Homo sapiens: one gene and its partners. The protein of the gene in region 1 interacts with the protein of each later gene in a pairwise test. Each region holds a gene or a part of one and is shown in the gene's direction. Other genes may lie near its edges. The genes, in order: CDK5RAP2, ABCA2 and STK36.

Region 1 (8,401 bases):
CCTGCCTGAGCCTCCGGAGTAGCTGGGATTACAGGAGTGCACCACCGTGCGTGGCTAATTTTTGTATTTTAGTAGAGACGGGATTTCACCATGTTGGCCAGGATGGTCTCCATCTCCTGATCTCATGATCTGCTCTCCTTGGCCTCCCAAAGTTCTGGGATTACAGGCGTGAGCCACCGCGCCCGGCGTGAGAACTATTTTTTAAATATAAATCTGCTCTTCACAGTCTGCTGCTTTATACTTTTAATGCTGCTTATTGCTGTTATCATAACTTCCATTATTATTCTCTCAGATAGCCATTCTTATTTCAGTGCTTTTTGGCCAGACACTTGGGTTTTGGGGTCCCAGGCCTAGCTGGGTTTTAATCCCAGTTCTGCTACTTAACAACCCCTTGATCTGGGGCAAGTCACTCATCATCTGTGAGCCTCAGTGTTTATCATCTGTAAAAGGGGTTGGTATAAAGCCTAGGGTTGGCATAAGGATTAAAATGAATCTTAAAAAGTTTAGCTCAGTGTCTGACCCAGAGTAACTACTCAACAGATCAGCAAATATTCTCCTTTCCCTCATCTCCCTGCCTTTGCAGGACGTAGATACTGCATACATTCCATCTTAACCATTTTAAAGCATGGTTCAGTTGTATTAAATATATTTGTATTATTGCTCAACGGTCACCACTATCTATCTTCGTAACTCTCCATCTTGCAAAACAGAAACTGTGTCCCTGTTAAAACAGTAACTCCCTATTCCCCCCTTCTCCCAGCCTCTGACAATCACCATTCTACTTTCTGTCTCTATGATTTTTTTTTTTTTTTTTTGAGACAGGGTCTCGCTTTGTTGCCCAGGCTGGAGTGCAGTGGAGTGATCTTGGCTCACTGCAACCTCCGCCTCCAGAGTTCAAGCAATTCTCATGGTTCAGCCACTTAGTGGCCGGGACTACAGGCATGCCCCACTACGCCTGGCTAATTTTTGTATTTTTGGTAGAGACGGGGTTTCACCAGGTTGACCAGGCTGGTCTTGAACTCCTGGCCTCAAGTGTTGTGCCTGCCTCGGCCTCCCAGAGTGCTGGGATTATAGGTATGTGCCATTGCGCCCAGCCTGTCTCTATGATTTTGACTACTCTAAGTGTCGCGTATAAGTAGAATCATACACTATTTGTCCTTCTGTGACTGGTTTATTTAACTTAGCATTATGTCCTCAAGGTTCATGCGTGTTGTAGTATGTGTCAGAATTTCTTTCCTTTTTAAGGCTTTTGTTTTTAATTTTTTTTAGAGACAGTCTTGCTCTGTTACCCATGCTGGTCTTAAATTCCTGGGCTCAAGTGATCCTCCTGCTTCTGCCTTGCTAAGAGCTGGGATTACAGACACAAGCCACTGTGCCTGCCCTTCACTGATATTTTTATTGTCCTTTTGATTATAGCCATCCTTTGGGTGTGACATGGTAGGTATCTCATTGTGGTCTTTTTTTTTTTGTCGTTGAGACAGAGTCTCACTCCCTTGCCCAGGCTGGAGTGCAGTGGCGCAATTTCGGCTCACCGCAACCTCTGCCTCGTGGGTTCAAGCGGTTCTGGTGCCTCAGCCTCCCAAGTAGCTGGGACTACAGGCACGTGCCACCATGCTCGGCTAATTTTTATATTTTTAGTAGAGACGGGGTTTCACCATGTTGGCCAGGCTGGTGTCGAACTCTTGACCTCAGGTGATCTGCCCGCCTTGGCCTCCCAAAGTGCTGGGTTACAGGAGTGAGCCACCCCGCCTGGCCCTCATTGTGGTATTGATTACATGTTAATGGCTACTGATGTGTTGAGCATCTTTCCATGTGCCTTTTAGCCATTTGTTCACTTTCTTTGGAGAAATGTGTATTCAAATCCATCGTCCATTTAAAAAACGTGAATATATTTTGACCCAGCAATTCCACTTCTTGTCATCTATTCTAGAGAAATCCTCATACTTGTGCATATGGGACCTTATAAGGACATTCATATGACATTGCATGTAAAAGAAAAACTTGGAAACAAATTGAATTATCATCAGTAGGGGATTGGGTAAATACACATCCTTTCAAAAGTATCTTTCAGACTGTGGCCCGTTGGTAGCTCATGAAATTCAATTTAGTAGGTTGCAACCAGGATTTAGAAAAATAGAACAGAATAGAAAACATTTCAAGGATGAAGGGTAATAATATTTCTTCTGTGGCTCATGGTCAGTAAGGTTTGAAGAACACTGCTGTAGAAAGCTTTGTAGGAGTTGAAAACTTTGAGGCATATCTATTTGTACTGTCATGAAAACATCATGAGGGCATATTAAGTAGAAGAAGGATGTTGTAGCATGATGTATACTGTTTGATTGCATGTGTTTTTAAGCAGCAAAATTGAAACTATCTATGTAAAAACACATAAAAAGTTCTGGAAGTTATAGGTCTTTTTGAAAACAGTGATTACCTCCTAGGCGGGTTCTAGATGGGAGCGAGGAGGAGCCAAGGAGAACTTTAGGCTTATCTGTATTTTTTTAAATTTATGTATTTTTCTCTAATTAAGAATAAAATAGAATGAAAAAGGGGTTGTTAAAAGACAAAAGTGAGTTTGTTTGTGTAATCGTTGTCAGAATGTGATATCTGGTCTCATCCATGACTCTCATGAAACAATTTGTCAAGGAGACATAAGACCCCTTGGGTCTTATGGTTTGAGTGGACAATTGTTGCTGGCATATGTAGGCATAGAAAGAGGTCAGTCCTTTTCGGTAGCAATAGAGCAAGATAGGAGGATGAGGTGGTGGAGCTCAGGTGAAGGTCCATTCAGTCACTCAAAAATTATCCACAAACAGTTGCTACAGCTGGGCGCGGTGGCTCACGCCTGTAATCCTAGCACTTTGGGAGGCTGAGGCGGTCAGGTCACCTGAGCTCAGGAGTTCAAGACCAGCCTGGCCAACGTGGTGAATCTCCATCTCTACTAAAAGTACAAAAAATTAGCCGGGCGTGGTGGTGCATGCCTGTAATCCTAGCTACTTGGGAGGCTGAGGCACGAGAATCGCTTGAATATGGAAGGTGGAGGTTGCAATGAGCTGAGATCACGCCACTGCACTCCAGCCTGGGCGATAGAGTGAGAGTCTCCAAAAAACCAAAACAAAACAAAACAGTCGTTATGATGGCTGTGCCCTGTGCTGAGTGATGGAAATTTTATGCCTCAGTCCATTCGGCCCTTAACCACCACCACACCCCTGCCACCCCCAACCTCCGGGAAGGCGTCAGGGGTACCAGGGTGGTGTAGGTTCACAGCAGGGGGTTTAAAGTCAGGCTGGCTTGGAGTTTCCAGCCTATTAACTTTTTGGTCTTTGTTTCCTCATTAAAAAAAAAAAAAAAAAAGGCAACATTAAAAAGTACCACCAGCCGCAGAAAGACTATAGTGAGGATTAAACCTGATTTTAGTTTCAAACATTCAGTTTAGAAAATGGACTTTAATCCTGTGGTGAGGATGAAAGGGAAGGCTGCCTGTCCTGTGCTGAGTGTGGTGCTTGTGCAGCATGGGTGCCCCATACAAGGGCAGGTTTCTTAGATTGTGCTTTATTTTGCACGTGAGGAAACTGGTACTCCACCATGTGTCACATTTATATAGGAGCTTTGGGCAGTCCACACACAGGCTAGCAAGTGGAAAAGACACTGGGATCCTGGATTTTGGGCTTGGCTTTGCCACTAACTTTTGTGATTTTGAGTAAATAAGTTCCTAACCCATTTCTGGGTTTCAGTCTTCTCATCTGTGGAATAAGATCATATCTGAGCCCTTTTGTTTTGCTTACATTGTCATTTCTCGTGAGTATCCCTGAGGCCCCAGCCTTAATTATAAGGCTACAAGTGAATGATTAGAATGGAAAGAGGGAGCTGCTTGTGGCTGGAGGTGTAGTTGGAACTGACTGGAGGGTGCAGATGACAGATTCATAGCATTTTAAAAGTGGGTAGGTAAAGCCCGAGTGGAAATTTGGCAGGATCCAAGCAAAAATTTCTGCATTACATAGTGGTTTTGTCTAAGAGTTGGGATGTCAGATGTCATTTTTCAAACTTCAGTGTTTGCCTGTAGGAAGCTTGTCTAAGACCAGAATCTTTGGCTTTGTTTGCTAGGTACTTTTCAGCTGTGATTGATCTTGGCTTGAGTTATTCATGGGCAGTTTTAGCCAGTGGGAGTTAATGTAATGGCTCTGGTACCCGGAGAGAACCCCAGATTGAGAATGCAGGACCAGACCTTAGGCTGAGCTTGGCCAATAACCTGGTGTATGTGACCTTGGGCTTCTGGACCACCATCTGCAAAAGGTGATGGTTGAACTTGATTTTAGTTTTTAAAATTCAGTTTAGAAAATTGACTTTGTCCTTTTAGTGATGTTTATTGGAGGAAATTGAGAATTATATAACATTAAAAAGGAAGAAAACCTCTCATTTCCCTACTAATGATGATTTTTAATATTTCAGTATATTTCCTTTGTCTTGTTATATATCTGTAGCCCACCTATTTCCAAAATGGACTTGAGGTGACTTCAGTATTTATGTACTGTATATATTTGTTTTCATAATTGAGGACATATTCTGTTTACGTTTTTTCATTTACCTTTACAGGGGACACTTTTTTTTTTAAATTTTTTTTTTTTTTGAGATGGAGTCTCACTCTATCACCCAGGCTTGAGTGCAGTGGCATGATCTCAGCTCACTTCAACCTCTGCCTCCTGGGTTCAAGTGATTCTCCTGCCTCAGCCTCTCAAGTAGCTAGGACTACAGGCACCTGCCACAATGCCCGGCTAATTTTTGTATTTTTATTAGAGATGGGGTTTTACCATGTTGGCCAGGCTGGTCTCGAACTCCTGATCTCAAGTGATGCACCAGCCTTGGCCTCCCAAAATACTGGGATTATAGGCATGAGTCACTGCACCCAGCCCGGACACATTTTTTTGTGATCATTTTCTTAATGTTGGAATTTTATGATATTTCCAATTTTTTGCCTGTTTTTGATCTTGAAGGTACATTCCAACTCCAAAGTTTGGTGGTCAGGCAAAATTATCCTAGGAGCACAATGAATTTGGATTTAGAGGCATGGAAAGAGCAAATTGCCAAGAAGTCAAGCTGTTTCCATCAACTCCTACTTTACAGTGTGGGATAGGGAAGTATTCGTGGGAGTTGGACATAAAAGACCTGGCTTCTGGACCTGGCTCTCCACAGAACCGCCATGTGACCCTGGCTAGGACAGTAAAATTGTCTGGGCCTTGGGGCCTTCCTTTGAAAAATGTGTGCACCCTCAGGGAATTAGGCAATTCTAATGATGGTAAATCTTTTATAAATTGTAAAGCACTGTAGGTTTCAAGGCGACATGATATTTTGCTCCCATTTGTGGAGTACCCACAAGGTACCTTGCAATATCTTGTTTAATTGCCAGTTACTCTGTGAGGTAGCTGCTGTACTCATTTTACAGCTAAAGAAAGTGAGGCTCAGAGAGATACATGGCAGAGCTTAGAATAGATCAGGGTAGTGTCTTTTGTGTCACACCACACCTCCTATTATGGGTTAGTTTTCTGTCAGTGTCTCCAGATCCTCACTGAATTTATTTATGTAATTCAACCAAGACAACTTCTTGGATCAGTGAATTTTGCATTGTTTGACATTCTTAAAACATCTAAATTGGTGTCTGATTCCCAGAGGTGGTGATAGGCATATTAGTAGTCATAATGATAATAGTAACAACAACAATAGTTGCCGTTTACTGAATACTTACTATGTGCTTTGTGTTTATATACATGAACGAATTTAATTTTTACAGGGAGGGCATGGTATCCTCATGTACCAGATTAAGAGGGTGAGACTCAGAAACATAAGTATCTTGTACTTGTCACAGTGCCTCTGCCACTAGCACATATTTGGCACACAGAACATTTGATGTATGACTGAATGAATGATGTTACTGAAGGTCACTCAGCTATCAAGTGTTGGAGCTGGAACTCAGCCCCAAAGCCTGAGTTCTTAACCTCTGTGCTTCATGCCACATAGGTAGCCCAGCTGTGTGCATCCCTCCTGGCCATGGGATGATTGTCATGTGCAGTCCAGACCGTCTTAACAGTCTCTGTTGTTCAAACATTAGCTCATCTCTTATCTCATGTGTTCTCTCCTAGTGGCCTTGTTCCCAGTGTACCAGATGACCTGGATGGCATCAACCCCAATGCTGGGTTGGGAAATGGTCGTAAGTACACAAAACCAGGCATTCTCTTGAGTAAAGAACAAGGAAAGTAGACATTGGACTGTGAGCATCTTGAGCTTTCATATCTCTGGGGCCCAGAGGCTTCCCTGAACTGGCACACCGTAGGTGCTCAGTATTTTTTGTATGTATTGATTTGCTTTCCACCTCCTTTCATAAACACTGGACTAGAGGAATTGTTGTCCTTTTGGCCATACTTCATGAGTTTCATTTGTTGCTACTAAAGCTATAGGGATTCAGTGAGCGTTTGCTGAACTGAACAACTGCACGGAGGCTGGACATTGAATTGGCAGCTAGGCCAGTGGCTGGAGGCCCAGGAGAGCTGCCATCTGGACTGTAGCGTGCCAAGGCCTTCCTGGCAGGCTGCTGGATCCTGTTTGCCGGCTGAGGCCCCGCATTCCTACACGGGCCTGCCCTTTGGAGACAAATAGCTGGTTAGACCACAGGAGACGGCTCTGAGTAAATAAGTAGCGTACTGTGTTTAAGCTGGATTATGAGGAGACTTTGCAGTTTGGGTCTAGCTAAGCATTCTTCATAATTTTTATTTCTGAAAAAAGTGAATGCTTAAGCGTCTCTGTGGGTAGTGCTAGTTTTTGCAAAATATCTCTAAGATATTTTGACTTGTTCTTTTTTTTCTCTTCTCCACAGTGCTGAGATATGTGCAAGAGGAGGGAGATTTTGGAGCAGACAGGAAAAGAGTCCCACGGTTTATTTCTGGAAAATCCCTTAACTTACAGGGCACCTTCATGTTTTCCTGAGGAACCTATTAACTTTTACTTTATTTTTACTTTTTATTTTTTTGAGACATGGTCTTGTCCTGTCACCCAGGCTGGGAGTGCAGAGGTGCGATCACGCACACTGCAGCCTTGACCTCTTGGACTCAAGCAATTCTCCATCTCAGTCTCCCTAGTATCTGGGACTACAGGCGTGTGCCACGACACCTGGCTAATTTTTGTATTTTTTGCAGGACGGTTTTGCCATGTTGCCCAGTCTGGTCTCGAATTCCTGGACTCAAGTGATCCACCTGCCTCAGCTTCCCGAAGTGCTGGGATTACAGGCATGAGCCACTGCACTCATTGGCAACTTTTACTTTAAATGCAAAATCCAACAAGTCTGATTTGAGATGGAGTCTCGCTCTGTTGCCCAGGCTGGAGTGCAGTGGTGTGATCTCGGCTCACTGCAACCTCCGCCTCGTGGGTTCAAGCAATTCTTCTGCCTCAGCCTCCCGAGTAGCTGGGATTACAGGCACGTGCCACCACACCCAGCTAATTTTTGTATTTTTAGTAGAGACAGAGTTCACCATGTTGGCCAGGCTGGTCTCGAACTTCTGACCTCAGGTGATCCACCCGCCGCAGCCTCCCAAAGTGCTGGGTTTACAGGCATGAGCCACTGTGCCTGGCCAGCCTATTTCTTAATTTAGCCGATAGTATACATTTGCTTCATGCCAGACTCTGGGCTCAGTGCTAAAATTCAACCTCAAATGTGGTTACTGTTAAGCTGAGAAGACAGACAAACCCTTATGAGAATTTGTATGGTCAGTGTCAGGAGCAAAGATGTATCAAGTGCTGTGAGAGGGGATTAAAGGGAGATTTCCTCTGGTGTGGAGGTGGGTCAGGCTAGAGTTTCCCAAGAAATTGATATTGGAGCGGAGACCTGAATAAGTCAGATGTAGGTAAGGAAAAAGGAGGGGATGAGCATCCCAGACACAGGTGAGGGCATGGCCCGTTTGAGGAACAGGAAAACAAACTAGCGTGCCCTTCACAGTCTGCCCTGCCCACTCCTTAGCCTCTTTTCTGCTAAGTGGTTTCCGAACACCATGCCCACTCCCACCTCTGTGCTTTTGCCTGGGCTGTCTCTCCTTCCTTTTGTTTCTCATCTGCCCGGTGCCTCCTTGCTCCCTCTTTAAGACTCAGCTCAAAGCTCACCACCCTTTTTGGCTCTCCCCAGGCTGACTAAGGTGTACTTTCCTCTCTCAACATTGTGTATTTCACTTCATCTCATCTCATTTCATTTATTCCTGTTGGCTACTTTTAAAGTATCGGAATCAGACTAGTTCTCACCCACCTATACTCCTTCCATCCTACTCCAACCCACCATGATCTGCGGCCTAGATTATCCCAATATTCTCCTAACTGGTTTCCCTGTTTCTCTCCTAAGCCCCTTACAGTCTGTTCTCAGAAAGGC
Region 2 (5,905 bases), about 16 Mb from region 1:
CCGGCCTCCTTCTGGTTCGAGGTCCCCAGCTCCGCCTACGTGTTCCTCATTGTCATCAATCTCTTCATCGGCATCACCGCCACCGTGGCCACCTTCCTGCTACAGCTCTTCGAGCACGACAAGGTGGGGCGGTGACGACATGGTGGGGGTGGCGGACCCTGCGGAGGCTGTGCCCCTCACCCCGGCCACCCCTGTGCCCCTGACCCCGGCCACCCCGCAGGACCTGAAGGTTGTCAACAGTTACCTGAAAAGCTGCTTCCTCATTTTCCCCAACTACAACCTGGGCCACGGGCTCATGGAGATGGCCTACAACGAGTACATCAACGAGTACTACGCCAAGATTGGTGAGGGGGCCCGTGGGGCGGGGAAGGCGGTGGGGGCCCCGCAAGGCCCAGAGCACAGGCCCTGAGCTGTCTCCCCGCAGGCCAGTTTGACAAGATGAAGTCCCCGTTCGAGTGGGACATTGTCACCCGCGGACTGGTGGCCATGGCGGTTGAGGGCGTCGTGGGCTTCCTCCTGACCATCATGTGCCAGTACAACTTCCTGCGGCGGCCACAGTGAGTGGGGGGCGGGGTGGGGCGGGGGCGGGGCGGGAGCAGGGATGGGTTCGGGGGTGGGGCAGGGTAGGGGCGGGGGTGGGGGCAGGGATGGGGCAGGAGGGGGTGAGGCAGGGGACAGCAGAGGGGCCTGCCCACCCTTCTTACATGCCACAGCCAGAGGATGCGAGGCTGGTGGCAGGGAGGGGCAGTGGGGGTGGCGAGCTGCTGGACACTGTCCACCCTGTCCCCCAAGGCGCATGCCTGTGTCTACCAAGCCTGTGGAGGATGATGTGGACGTGGCCAGTGAGCGGCAGCGAGTGCTCCGGGGAGACGCCGACAATGACATGGTCAAGATTGAGAACCTGACCAAGGTGGGCTCTGGGCATGTAGGGTGGGGCCTGGGTGGGGTAGGCCAGGGCCAGGGGGGTGGGGCCCCAGCAGTGGAGGTGGAGCCTGGGTGGGCAGGGCCCTGAGCTCTGGGGGTGGGGCCTGCATGGGGTGGGGCTGTGGGGCACGTGGCCCCCTGGGCTCTGGAGGTGGGGCAGGGTCTGGGTGGGGTGGGGCCAGAGGGGCAGGGTGGGGGCAGGATGCCCCGCTGAGTGGGCAGGCTCCTGGCCAGGTCTACAAGTCCCGGAAGATTGGCCGTATCCTGGCCGTTGACCGCCTGTGCCTGGGTGTGCGTCCTGGCGAGTGCTTCGGGCTCCTGGGCGTCAACGGTGCGGGCAAGACCAGCACCTTCAAGATGCTGACCGGCGACGAGAGCACGACGGGGGGCGAGGCCTTCGTCAATGGACACAGGTGGGGCGGGAGCCCTGGGTGGGCGGGGCCGCCGCGTCCTCACGCGCTGACAGCTGCCGTGTCCCCAGCGTGCTGAAGGAGCTGCTCCAGGTGCAGCAGAGCCTCGGCTACTGCCCGCAGTGTGACGCGCTGTTCGACGAGCTCACGGCCCGGGAGCACCTGCAGCTGTACACGCGGCTGCGTGGGATCTCCTGGAAGGACGAGGCCCGGGTGAGGATCTGTGGGGCGGGGCAGGGAGTCAGCACGCTGGGTGGCCCTGCCTCCACTGACACCTGCGTTCCCTGGCCAGGTGGTGAAGTGGGCTCTGGAGAAGCTGGAGCTGACCAAGTACGCAGACAAGCCGGCTGGCACCTACAGCGGCGGCAACAAGCGGAAGCTCTCCACGGCCATCGCCCTCATTGGGTACCCAGCCTTCATCTTCCTGGTAAGTCCTGGGTGGGTGGGGGGTGGCTGCCTGGCCTTTGACTTCCTGGTGAGCACGGGCAGGGGCAGCGTTCAGGCTGGGGTGTGTGGGCCTGGCAGCAGCTGAGCCTGCCACCCATCCCCAGGACGAGCCCACCACAGGCATGGACCCCAAGGCCCGGCGCTTCCTCTGGAACCTCATCCTTGACCTCATCAAGACAGGGCGTTCAGTGGTGCTGACATCACACAGGTGAGGGCGCCCCCACCCCCTCTTTGTGCCCCCACCCCACAGCACCCCTTCCGGTGCCAGCCTGTGCATGTCCCACAGCATGGAGGAGTGCGAGGCGCTGTGCACGCGGCTGGCCATCATGGTGAACGGTCGCCTGCGGTGCCTGGGCAGCATCCAGCACCTGAAGAACCGGTGAGCCGGGGCAGGGCCAGGGGTGGGCTGGGGCGGGCCCGGGGGGGGCGGCCAGGCAGCGGGGCCAGGAGTGGGGGTGGCTGCAGGGCTGTGAGGGCTGTGGGGCCAGGGGGGCTGGGGGCACTGGGGCTGGGGGGACTGGGGCAGTGGGGCCAGGGGAGGAGCCTGGAGGGCTGTGGGGGCTGTGGGGTTGGGGGGCTGTGGGAGGCTATGGGGCTTCCTGGGGTGCCTGTGGGGGCTGTAGGGCTGGGAGGCTGGGGGGCTGGGGCTCTGGCTGGGCGGCGCAGGGCTCCGGGCCACCGGCCTGTCCCACCAGGTTTGGAGATGGCTACATGATCACGGTGCGGACCAAGAGCAGCCAGAGTGTGAAGGACGTGGTGCGGTTCTTCAACCGCAACTTCCCGGAAGCCATGCTCAAGGTGCGCCGTCCCGGGCAGGGTTGTGGAGGGGGCGCTACGGGGTGGGGGGGCGCTGCCAGGCCTCTGACCTCCCCCCCTGCAGGAGCGGCACCACACAAAGGTGCAGTACCAGCTCAAGTCGGAGCACATCTCGCTGGCCCAGGTGTTCAGCAAGATGGAGCAGGTGTCTGGCGTGCTGGGCATCGAGGACTACTCGGTCAGCCAGACCACACTGGACAATGTGAGCGCCCCAAGGGCACTGCGCACCACACCTGCCCCTCCCCTCACCCGCCCTGCCCCTCCTCACCCCAGACCAGCCCCCTCCCCACACGCCTGCGCCACCCACCAGGTGTTCGTGAACTTTGCCAAGAAGCAGAGTGACAACCTGGAGCAGCAGGAGACGGAGCCGCCATCCGCACTGCAGTCCCCTCTCGGCTGCTTGCTCAGCCTGCTCCGGCCCCGGTCTGCCCCCACGGAGCTCCGGGCACTTGTGGCAGACGAGCCCGAGGACCTGGACACGGAGGACGAGGGCCTCATCAGCTTCGAGGAGGAGCGGGTGAGCAGGCTGCTCTCATGGCTGTCCAGGGCTCTGCCCACTGGACCCAGGCTGCCTGGTGGCTCCAGCCGCGGGTGGGGTCGGGGGAGAACTGGCCCCAGGATGCTTGCTGTCCAGAGGTCAAGGGGGCAGAGTGGGCGAGGGACACTTGCAGATAGGCCTGGAGAGACGTAACTGCATGGTCCAGACTTGCTAGAGTCTTTGAGGGGCACAGAGCAAGGGTGGGGCAGAGGGGACCAGAGCCGGGGAACAGGGGACCGATGTAGACTCAGTGGCCCCCAGACTCGGCAGACGGAGGCCCGGGAGAGCCCAGACACAGAGGGAGCTCGTGGGGAGACCCTGCGTCCAGGCCCAGCCTGCAGGAGGGCCGGGGCGGGCCAGCACAAGTGTCCTCAGCCCCAGCAGGGGGTGGCACAGGATGCCCCATAAGCCTGACCTCCCCTGTGCACAGGCCCAGCTGTCCTTCAACACGGACACGCTCTGCTGACCACCCAGAGCTGGGCCAGGGAGGACACGCTCCACTGACCACCCAGAGCTGGGCCAGGGACTCAACAATGGGGACAGAAGTCCCCCAGTGCCTGCCAGGGCCTGGAGTGGAGGTTCAGGACCAAGGGGCTTCTGGTCCTCCAGCCCCTGTACTCGGCCATGCCCTGTGGTCACTGCGGTTGCCGCCCCTAATTGTGCCAAAGGCTGACCCGGCCCGGGCTGCGTACACCCTTGCCCTGCTTTGCCTTAAAGCCTCGGGGTCTGCCCGGCCCCTCGCCCCTGCCTGGCACTGCTCACCGCCCAAGGCGACGCCGGCTGGACCAGGCACTGCTGGCCTTTCTCCTGCCCGGCCTCGGAACCAGCTTTTCTCTCTTACGATGAAGGCTGATGCCGAGAGCGGGCTGTGGGCGGAGCTGGGTCAGTCCCGTATTTATTTTGCTTTGAGAAGAGGCTCCTCTGGCCCTGCTCTCCTGCAGGGAGGTGGCTGTCCTGCGGGAAGCCATCAGCTTGGGCCAGCTGGCAGGTGGCAGGAATGGAGAAGCTGACCCTGCTGGCCAGGCAAGGGGCCAGACCCCCCCCAACCCCCAGCTGCCATCGCTCTCCCACCCAGCTTGGCCCCCTGCCCGCCCACCTCCCTGGGAGCCGGGCCTGTACATAGCGCACAGATGTTTGTTTTAAATAAATAAACAAAATGTCTGCGGGTCTGCGTGTGTGGGTTGGGAAGGGTGGGGAGGATGGGCGCATCAGGTGGGTTAGCGCTCCAGAAGGCCCTGCCCCTCAGGCACAGGTGCTGGCAGGGGGTGGCTGGGTCGGTCTGGAGGAGGGAAACTGAGGCAGGGTGGTTCACCATGGTTCACTGTCCCCCTCATCCCACCCTCAGGGGTTGCTCCCGGCCCCCTTCCCCTTAGCCTTCATCTTCCCGTCCACCTGCCCTCTCTAAGCCTCCTTCACCCCTTGCTGCCCACGTGGGGCCTGCAGCAGCCTGGGCTAGGCTGTCTCCGTGTCATGGAAGGGACAGCGAGGGCTTCCAGGAAGAGGCGACCTCCAGGAGGAGACCGAAGTCTGTGAAGATTCCTTAAGGGAAGGGCATCCCAGCCAGAGGGCAGGGCACAGGCCAAGGCCCCAGGGAGGCAGGACCTGGAAGCTTTGAGGCTCATCAGCGGTGGAGCCTGGCACACTGTGGGCAGGAGATGGGGGAGGGGCATGAATGGCCCCCAGAGCTCACGCCCCGTGATCTGGGCCAAGTTCAGACTCTTGCCTTAGGCCGTTTCAAGGCTCCTCAGGAGGGTAGAGGGTGGACTCACTGAGGGCTGGTGCCACATGGGGGACAACAGGGGAGGGGCCCATGGGCTTGAGGGCACTGGGTGGGCTGGGCCAACACATCCACTTGGGTTCCTATGAGGCACTCACTGTGACCACCTGAGAGGCAGTGGGATGACCATGCTGGAGTCCCTGAGAGGCTGGGTCACTGGGGTGAAGCTGTCCTGGGCCCTGGGGGCGGTTCACTCTGGAAGAACCGAGAGGAACAGTGGCTCACTGGAGGGGCTGGTGTGGGTTTGGTGGTCGGCCAAGGGAAATGCGTGGGGGAGCCGCCAGAAGGCAGGAGGCCGCAGCAGCCTCCGTCCTGCAACTGTAGGGGCTGAATCATGGCAGAAAGAGGTCGAGAAAGGAACACGGCCCAGCCGAGGCCCAGGGAGACCCTGCGCGCAGGACCAGGCCAGGCTGGACCTGGACAGCCGCCCACAGACTGACACAGTTCACGGGGGCATCGTCCCTAGAGGTTTCATTTTCATGATGTGTAATGCAGCATTGAAAGCAAACACACCCCCCAGCATCTTCCTCAGAACATTTTCCGCCGAGCACGGTGGCTCACGCCTGTAATCCCAGCACTTCGGGAGGCCGAGGCAGGTGGATCATCTGAGGTCAGGAGTTCGAGACCAGCCTGGCCAACATGGTGAAACCCCATCTCTACTAAAACTACAAAAATTAGCTGGGTGTGGTGGTGGGCGCCTGTATTCCCAGCTGCTCGGGAGGCTGAGGCAGAAGAATCACTTGAACCTGGCAGGTAGAGGCTGCAGTGAGCCAAGATCGTGCCATTGCACTCCAGCCTGGATGACAGAGTGAGACTCTGTCTCAAAACAACAGCAAAAAGAACATTTTAAACTTTCAGGAAAGTTGCGAGAATAGCAGAGCGCACGCCGCATCTTCAGCCGATGCGCCTGTGAAATCTTGCCACACGCACCGTCGCTCTACCCACTTTTGTGCTGCCCCATGTGAAAGCAAGCAGCTGTGACCTGCCAGCCCC
Region 3 (8,401 bases), on another chromosome or scaffold:
TCGAAAAATAAATAAAGGGCAAAAATAAATAAAAATATAATACTATCCTTAGCATGCAGGCTGTATACAAATAAATGTTAGGCTGGATTTGACCTGTGAGCCATAGTTTGTCAACCCTGATCTAGAGTTGAATAATGTTGTTTTGTCTTTCTGTGGTTAAATAATATTGTTTTATATGCATTGTTTTGAATTTTCAGAAGCATGTGCGGTGCACGTGTTTTTTGTTTTTAAGGTGAAGGGCTGGAGAAGGGAGGGAGCAGATGGGAATGGCACTTAGTCTGACAGAGATCCTGAGGAGAGGCCCCTATCCGTTGGTCACTGGTGTTCTGTGTTAGGTAACCTGACCATCTATTGTCTTCTTCCCTGGTACAGTTCCCCTATTTCCCTGCTTTCCTTCTCTGTGTTTTAGACTTGCAAAGAAAGGAATGCAAGCATGTGGTCTGCTTTCCCAGCTCCTTGGGGATGCTTGGTATGTGTAGTTCTCCTTCTTTTACCTCTGAAAATATCAATCGTTGCCTCTTTCCCTCATGTCACCCAGATCCTGAAAGGCATCTTGGAGGGTGCTTCCCACATCCTGCCTGCATTCCGGGTCCTGAGCAGTCTTCTCTCCAGCTGCAGTGATTCTGTTGCCTTGTATTCCTTCTGCCGGGAGGCAGGGCTTCCTGGGCTGCTGCTGAGTCTACTCAGGCACAGTCAGGAGAGCAACAGCCTCCAGCAGGTAAGCACCAGGCCAGAAGCCTCTGAAGACTTACAGAGGTTCTTTTTCTTGGATTTATCTCATTCAGATTGCCATCTCTCTTTGGTCTGACTGCCTTTTATTTTCTTTCCTCCTCTTTCTAGTTAGTAGACTATTAATTGCAAACTCTAATGCCTTCTGGGGCCAGGCAGATAAGGTCTGCCATGAAGTAGGCTATGCATGTGACTATATGAGTTGTGGGGAATATGATGAACTAGAGTTCACATGCCTCCTCTAAATAGAGTAGAGGCATCCTTTCCTCAGCCTCCAGCCCATTGTTGCCACAGGGAAATATGGGCCTGAGAAAACTAGCCAGATCTTCTAGTTTTCTAAGAAAAGGTAGAAACCCAAATTTTTATGTGTAATTTTTAAATATTTAGAGCGCTGTGCTTTGAAATGTTAGATCCTAGGCTTCATTGACCTGATCTTACAGAGCAGAGTACTAAAATTCAGAGGTAACTCATACACAGTCACTAATTTGTAAATGGTCACAGAGATAACAAGTGGAAGAGCTGGGATAGAGACTCAATGTGTTTGGGGCCAAACCTCTACTTCCCCCTGCTGTGTCCTACGGTAGCTGGACTGAGAGGATGGGGAATGTTTCAGAGTCAGTGTAAATGCCTAATAGGGCCTAGGATGAGGCAGCTGGAAAGCTGCACTTTGTTGATGAGTATTAATCTTGGGTGATTTTAAGGAATTTAGAGAAAAAGATTTTTGAAAAATAGAACCTCCTATACTCCAAAATGCTATTCAGGCCAAACAAGACACATTTAATCCAGGCTGTTCACAGCCCATTGGCAGATTCTCTGTTACCCCTAGAACTCTCTCTCTGCCTATACTTCTCTTCTGTCCCTTTCTGTTTGATCAACTTGACTGGGTCTCTATACACCCTTTCTACTGTTTTTTCTATTCTTTGTTTCCATCCTTCACATTGCCCTTACTCTCTTCTCCTTTTCCTGGGCAGCAATCTTGGTATGGGACCTTCTTACAGGACCTGATGGCTGTGATTCAGGCCTACTTTGCCTGTACCTTCAATCTGGAGAGGAGCCAGACAAGTGACAGGTAGGATAAGAAGTGCTTTTGCATTGTTGGCAAGTTTGGCTTCTGTTTCTACCCCAAGTGCCCTTCCCATTTAGGAACAGGCCAAGTATGAAGAAGCTGTGATTTGTTACAGGTTTAGGAATCAGCTGAGTGGCCACTCATAGTCCTTTTAAGGACCCTAAGACAGCTCCAACTTGGCCTCAAGACTTACAGTTTCTAAGAGTCAGCAGTCACCATGGTCCTAAAATGGAAGGGTCAAGATGTGAATAACCTATTCCAGGAAGCCAATTGGATTAAAGAAAGAAAGAAAGAAAAAAAATATGCGAATAACCTAGAGAAAATGGCAAAGAAGGGGCTTGGAGGGTGTATGTGTGTGTGTGGCAAGGGAGAAGGGAGGAACATTCTGATGTGTCCCTTTGCAGAGATTCTCCTACCTGCCCAGGACTGACCCATTCACCACATCCAGGCTTTTAGTAGAGAGATAAGAAATCATGGGCTCATTTTCCACCCCCAGCCTGCAGGTGTTTCAGGAGGCTGCCAACCTTTTTCTGGACCTGTTGGGGAAACTGCTGGCCCAACCAGATGACTCTGAGCAGACTTTGCGGAGGGACAGCCTTATGGTAATCTGCTCCCACTTCCAGATTTCTGTGTCTCCTATCATTCTCCGTGTTTCTCCCATCCCCTTTCTTATGACTATGTAGGGTCAGATCAAGTTAATATGACAAACATTTGTTAAATTCCCACCATGCCATATGCCATGTGAGTAAGAAAAAGTGCCTGCCTTCAAGGGACTAGGGATAATTTAATAGGGGAGAGGTAAAGGGATTAAGGACAACAGTGAAAAGTACATTAGAACTTTGCATATAATACAAGAGCACTGCTGTATTTTATGAAGAAGATGCAGTTAACCACTGCAGAAGATGCACTTAACACTATTTGGAGTATCATAGAAGAAATCTCGAAGAAGGAAATCATCTCTGCTAGCATTTGAAGAATACATCGCAGTTTGCCACGTAAATGAGGCACAAAGTAGAAATTCTATACAGAAAGAGTAACATATATAAAGGCCCAGAGGCTTTAAGCAGTTTGGCATATTTCAGGGGACCACAAATAGAACGACTTCTTCTTGAAAAGACTTGCAGATCATCTAGTATTGTCTAACCTCGTTTGTCCTGAGGATTAGTAGACTATGCAGTTCTTTTCCCTAGATCCTGGAGGTAAGGGACAGGAGAATGGAGGATTGAATGAGAAAATAGCTGTGTTCTGACTAACCTCAGAGGAGATAGAGAGGAACATATATTTGTAAGGAAGTAAATAATTGCCTGGTCATTGTTAAAACTGGTAATTGGGAACATAGATCTGGACTACTACTTGCCTTTAGCTAGCATTCACTCAGACTTTCCTGGTCTGAGATCCTGTTTTAATATCCCTCACCCTTTCAAGTCAGAAAGCTTTTACTGTCTAACCTAAATTTTGGCCAGCAGTGACTCATGCTATTGGCCAGCACTTCTCATGTCATATGCTATGAATAGAATGGGGAGTTTGGAATAATTACCTCCTGAAATTCTGAATCAGTAGGACTGAGTTGGGAGGGACCCAGGAATCCCTAGGATTTCTTCTTTTCTTTCCTTTTTTTTTTGGAGACAGGGTCTCTCTGTCACCCAGGCTAGAGTGCAGTGGCATGATCTTGACTCACTGCAACCTCCACCCTCCGGGCTCAAGCAATCCTCCCATCTCGGCCTCTTGAGTAGCTGAGACTATGGGTGCACACCACCAGACCTGGCTATTTTTTTTGGATTTTTAGTAGAGACAGGGTTTTGCCATGTTGCCCAGGTTGGTCTCAAACTTCTGAGCTCAAGTGATCCACCTGCCTCGGCCTCCCAATCCCCTGTTGGGATTACAGGCATGAGCCATTGCACCTGACCCCTAGGAATTCTTATACTCACAGTCTATAAAAAATACTTTGAGAAACATCATCTAGGGAGCATCTGATCAGAGAATAGAAGGATTGACACCTAAAATTATTGTCCTTGAAGCATGAATGAAAGCAGTTCTAATGCATTTTTGGTGTGAAGAATGCTTAAAATTAGACATGTGTTTGCTTTGGTTTTTGTCCTCTTTCCTCAGATCCTCAGGGTTTTCTTGTTTTTTACACTAAGCCCAGTCTTCTGATGCCCTGATGCTACCTCTGCACTTCTCTCCTTTAGTGCTTTACTGTCCTGTGCGAAGCCATGGATGGGAACAGCCGGGCCATCTCCAAAGCCTTTTACTCCAGCTTGCTGACGACACAGCAGGTTGTCTTGGATGGGCTCCTTCATGGCTTGACAGTTCCACAGCTCCCTGTCCACACTCCCCAAGGTAACCAGAGTGGAGAAGGGAGGTTCTCTTGACTTACTTGTTGCATAGGTCAGGCTCCGCTCTTTCTATTGCCATCACCTAGATCGCACCTGGCATTTAGTAGGTGCTCAATAAATAACTGTGAACTGAGAGAATGAATGGGGATCTGAGGGAAACAAACAGACCTCATCCTGCATTCTTCCCACTCCCTTAGGTTCCCTACTCCTGCTGCCATGTCGGTGAGTACTGGTGCTATTGTCTAGGGCAAGAGCCTCAGGCCTTTGGAGTTACTCTTTGCTTTTCTCCACAGGAGCCCCGCAAGTGAGCCAGCCACTGCGAGAGCAGAGTGAGGATATACCTGGAGCCATTTCCTCTGCCCTGGCAGCCATATGCACTGCTCCTGTGGGACTGCCCGACTGCTGGGATGCCAAGGAGCAGGTCCGAGCTACAATTGGTTGTTCCTCTCATCCTACTGCCAGAGGAATTGAGGAGGCTAGCCCCAGTTTTTCAGAAAGGCAGAAAAACAAGCTTTTAAGCCCCTCCTTTAGTACTTCCAGAAACAGATGCTCCCACCCTGGGCCATTTGTAGAACATGATATAGCCAGAATCCCAGAGCCCATGGCCAGTTGGTGAGGGAGAGAGCACAGTGATAAACTGCCCAGATGGTGGGGCAGCTGATCTGAAGCCTCCAGTGATGCTTCCTCAAGGGCTGAGAATTCAGCTTTCCTGATCCCTGTTGGTCGGTAATCCTTTCCTCTGTACCTGGCTACACTGGGGCCAAACTAGGCCATGACTTTTGGTTCTCTATTGGTGATGAAGACTGGGAATAGAATGGGGTCTGAGGTTTCTGGTGAATGTGGGAAGAGTGACTAGGAAGAGACTGAGAGTCCTGATCATTTTGGACATATGTGAGGAATAGGGTTGTAATCATGTGGATAGGATTGAGCCTTCAGGTATGTCTCTATAGGTCTGTTGGCATTTGGCAAATCAGCTAACTGAAGACAGCAGCCAGCTCAGGCCATCCCTCATCTCTGGCCTGCAGCATCCCATCCTGTGCCTGCACCTTCTCAAGGTAATCCTCTTAACTCCTGGCATCACAGCTTTATTTTTAACTCCCAGTGCAGACAGAGAAGCAGAGAAACAGACCAAGAGAGGAGGACTAAAAGAGAGAGAGACTGAGAGAGACCATTTGAGACACCCCCTTGGAAGACTCCTTTCTGCTTTTAAATCTGTTCAACTGAGAGGACCCCACTGTTAGCCAGTCCTCAGCGGAACCGAGAAGGGTCCCTGTCTCACTATCTCATAGCAAGAGGCAGAAGGGGGTTCTCTCACACTCCCAAGTGTGGGTACCAGATCTTTTGAGGGGCTGGCCGGTGTTTCCGCTGAGCCTTCAATCTTGGAGCCCGGGGCCTGCCCTGCCTCACTGCCAGACTCCTTCCTTCTCCCTCAGGTTCTATACTCCTGCTGCCTTGTCAGTGAGGGCCTGTGCCGTCTTCTGGGGCAGGAGCCCCTGGCCTTGGAATCCCTGTTTATGTTGATTCAGGGCAAGGTAAGCCAGCTTCCCCTGGCAGCCCCACTGTCTCAGCCAGAGGTTGTTCTGATATCTTAGGTTTCCTTTGTAGGTAAAAGTAGTAGATTGGGAAGAGTCTACTGAAGTGACACTCTACTTCCTCTCCCTTCTTGTCTTTCGGCTCCAAAACCTGCCTTGTGGGTAAGTCATAAAGTAGGGTGTCTCCACAGAAGTCTTCTAGCCACATAGCTAACCCTCACAAAGAGTATGGGGAATGGTACCCTACAGCATATCCTTAGGAGGAATTGGGATAGAGAGCGTGAAGCTTTCTCTACAAAGAACAGACCTAGACTCCCATCAACTTTGTGCCTTGGAGGTAGACATGCAGCCTAGGTGAAGAACACCATGCAAGGGAGAGGGGAGGCCGCTTACCAACCTCCTTTAATACTGCTGCATCCCTTGATGTATCTCTTTATTCCAGAATGGAGAAGCTAGGCAGTGACGTTGCTACTCTCTTTACCCATTCGCATGTCGTCTCTCTTGTGGTAAGTTTTTAACCTTCACCCTCCTCCCCTTTTCACCCTAGCATCTACCCCTTGTGGAAGTGGGGGAGTCACTATCCAATTTGCATCTGTTTCTGGAGGCATTCTTTTGGACCAGGACAGAGACATAAATCCTCTCTGCCTGTCCTGAATGCCATTTAGATTTGGACATTCTTTCTCCTCTTTTACCTCTCCCACAGAGTGCAGCAGCCTGTCTATTGGGACAGCTTGGTCAGCAAGGGGTGACCTTTGACCTCCAGCCCATGGAATGGATGGCTGCAGCCACACATGCCTTGTCTGCCCCTGCAGAGGTGAGGCCCCCCAGGGAGGGCACAGACATGTTTTCTCTGAGTCAGACACTAGGACTGCATTCAAGGGGAAAAGACTGAAATGCCAGCAAGCCTGGAGTAAACTGAGGAATGGAAAAGGAATCAAGGAGCCCTTCCTTTTCTAGATTTGTCGCCGGATGATAGGCCCCTCTGAGCCCAGATTGATCTGGACTTTAGATTTCTTTTTAATATGCAGAGCTTCTAGAGAGTGAGGGAGGGAAGGGAAGAGGAAGGGTGACTAACCTGAGTTTTCTGAGTAGTGTGAGAACCCTGCCTGCTTCGTTCTCCTCCTCCAGAAGCTCATGCTCTTGGCAGAGTCCTTCCTAATGCATAATTTCACCTCTGACTGCAGCTTCCACTCTGCTTTCCCCACTTGTTCTTCTTAACAGATGGAAAAGGTGGCTGACATCCTGTGAATTCTTCAGGAACTCAGTCCATTATGTAGCCTTCTTTCTGCTTTCTCCTTTCCCAGGACTTTTCTTCCTTTCATTTTTAGACCCTTTGGAACTCATCTTTCCTTCATTTTGTAAAAAGAAGGATAGACTTTATAATCAAATTATTGTCATCCCTTTTTTTTTTTTTTTTTTTTTTTGAGATGGAGTTTCACTCTTGTCCAGGCTGGAGTGCCATGGCGCGATCTCGGCTCACCGCAACCTCTGCCTCCTGGGTTCAAGCGATTCTCCTGCCTCAGCCTCCCGAGTAGCTGGGATTACAGGCATGCACCACCATGCCCAGCTAATTTTTGTATTTTTAGTAGAGACAGGGTTTCTCCATGTTGGTCAGGCTGGTCTCGAACTCCTGACCTCACATGTGATCCGCCCACCTCGGCCTCTCAAAGTGCTGGGATTATAGGTGTGAGCCACCATGTCCAGTCTTTTTTTTTTTTTTTTTTTTTTTTGAGACGGAGTCTTATTCTGTCGCCCAGGCTGGAGTGTAGTGGCACGATCTTGGCTCACTACAACCTCCGCCTCCCAGGTTCAAGTGATTCTCCTGCCTCAGCCTCCCAAGTAGTTGGGATTACAGGTATACACCACCATGCCTGGCTAATTTTTTTGTGTGTTTTTAGTAGAGATGGGGTTTCACCATGTTGGCCAGGCTGGTCTCGAACTCCTGACCTCAAGTGATCCATCCGCCTCAGCCTCCTAAAGTGCTGGGATTACAGGAATGAGCCACTGTGCCCAGCCTGCCATCTTTATATATGTAGAATTCTTTTTTTTTTTTTTTTTTTTGAGATGCAGTCTCACTCTGTCACCAGGCTGGAGTGCAGTGGCGTGATCTCGGCTCACTGCAACCTCCACCTCCTGGGTTCAAGCGATTCTCCTGCCTTATCCTCCTGAGTAGCTGGGACAACAGGTGCACACCTCCATGCCCAGCTAATTTTTGTATTTTTAGTAGAGACGGGGTTTCACAATGTTGGCCAGGCTGGTCTGGAACTCCTGACTTCCTGATCCCCCCGCCTCAGCCTCCCAAAGTGCTGGGATTACAGGCGTGAGCTACCTCAGTGGCTGAATTCTTTATAATTTATAAAACATTTTCACATGTTATCCCACAACACACTTGAAATATAGACACACCAATGTAATAATACTCATCTGCTTTTTCTAGACTAAGTTAGCCTTCAGAGAGGTTGTATCACTAGTGATAGCACTAACACTCATCCAGAAGTCTAAGTCAGAACTTTGGGAGTCATCAGTGACTGTTCTCTCTTCCCCATTATTCCCCCACCGAAATGGTTCCCCCAGGCCCCATATATTCTACCTTCCGGTTGACTCTCAAATCTGTTCCCTCCATGGCACCATCACTGACCTGCCTTGGTTTAACGGACACCCCATTCCTCTTAGGCACCTGCATTCTTCATGTTTCTCTCTGACAGGTTCGGTTGACTCCACCAGGTAGTTGTGGATTC

The links.
Region 2: the proteins of CDK5RAP2 (region 1) and ABCA2 interact in a two-hybrid assay, tested with the Homo sapiens proteins (one study listed by BioGRID and IntAct).
Region 3: the proteins of CDK5RAP2 (region 1) and STK36 interact in a two-hybrid assay, tested with the Homo sapiens proteins (one study listed by BioGRID and IntAct).

Annotation. Positions count from the first base shown.
Region 1 is NC_000009.12:120,569,775-120,578,175, reverse strand, and holds part of CDK5RAP2 (CDK5 regulatory subunit-associated protein 2), read left to right. Parts: intron 1-6,134; coding exon 6,135-6,202; intron 6,203-8,401. UniProt on the Homo sapiens protein: Potential regulator of CDK5 activity via its interaction with CDK5R1. Negative regulator of centriole disengagement (licensing) which maintains centriole engagement and cohesion. Involved in regulation of mitotic spindle orientation.
Region 2 is NC_000009.12:137,005,625-137,011,529, reverse strand, and holds the end of ABCA2 (ATP-binding cassette sub-family A member 2), read left to right. Parts: coding exon 1-123; intron 124-220; coding exon 221-344; intron 345-424; coding exon 425-557; intron 558-792; coding exon 793-910; intron 911-1,158; coding exon 1,159-1,337; intron 1,338-1,405; coding exon 1,406-1,547; intron 1,548-1,626; coding exon 1,627-1,761; intron 1,762-1,885; coding exon 1,886-1,989; intron 1,990-2,067; coding exon 2,068-2,160; intron 2,161-2,476; coding exon 2,477-2,579; intron 2,580-2,661; coding exon 2,662-2,799; intron 2,800-2,907; coding exon 2,908-3,114; intron 3,115-3,565; coding exon 3,566-3,601; 3' UTR 3,602-4,296; downstream 4,297-5,905. UniProt on the Homo sapiens protein: Probable lipid transporter that modulates cholesterol sequestration in the late endosome/lysosome by regulating the intracellular sphingolipid metabolism, in turn participates in cholesterol homeostasis.
Region 3 is NC_000002.12:218,688,159-218,696,559, forward strand, and holds part of STK36 (serine/threonine-protein kinase 36), read left to right. Parts: intron 1-538; coding exon 539-718; intron 719-1,700; coding exon 1,701-1,798; intron 1,799-2,291; coding exon 2,292-2,397; intron 2,398-3,984; coding exon 3,985-4,135; intron 4,136-4,424; coding exon 4,425-4,552; intron 4,553-5,081; coding exon 5,082-5,186; intron 5,187-5,564; coding exon 5,565-5,663; intron 5,664-5,736; coding exon 5,737-5,825; intron 5,826-6,105; coding exon 6,106-6,169; intron 6,170-6,366; coding exon 6,367-6,477; intron 6,478-8,368; coding exon 8,369-8,401.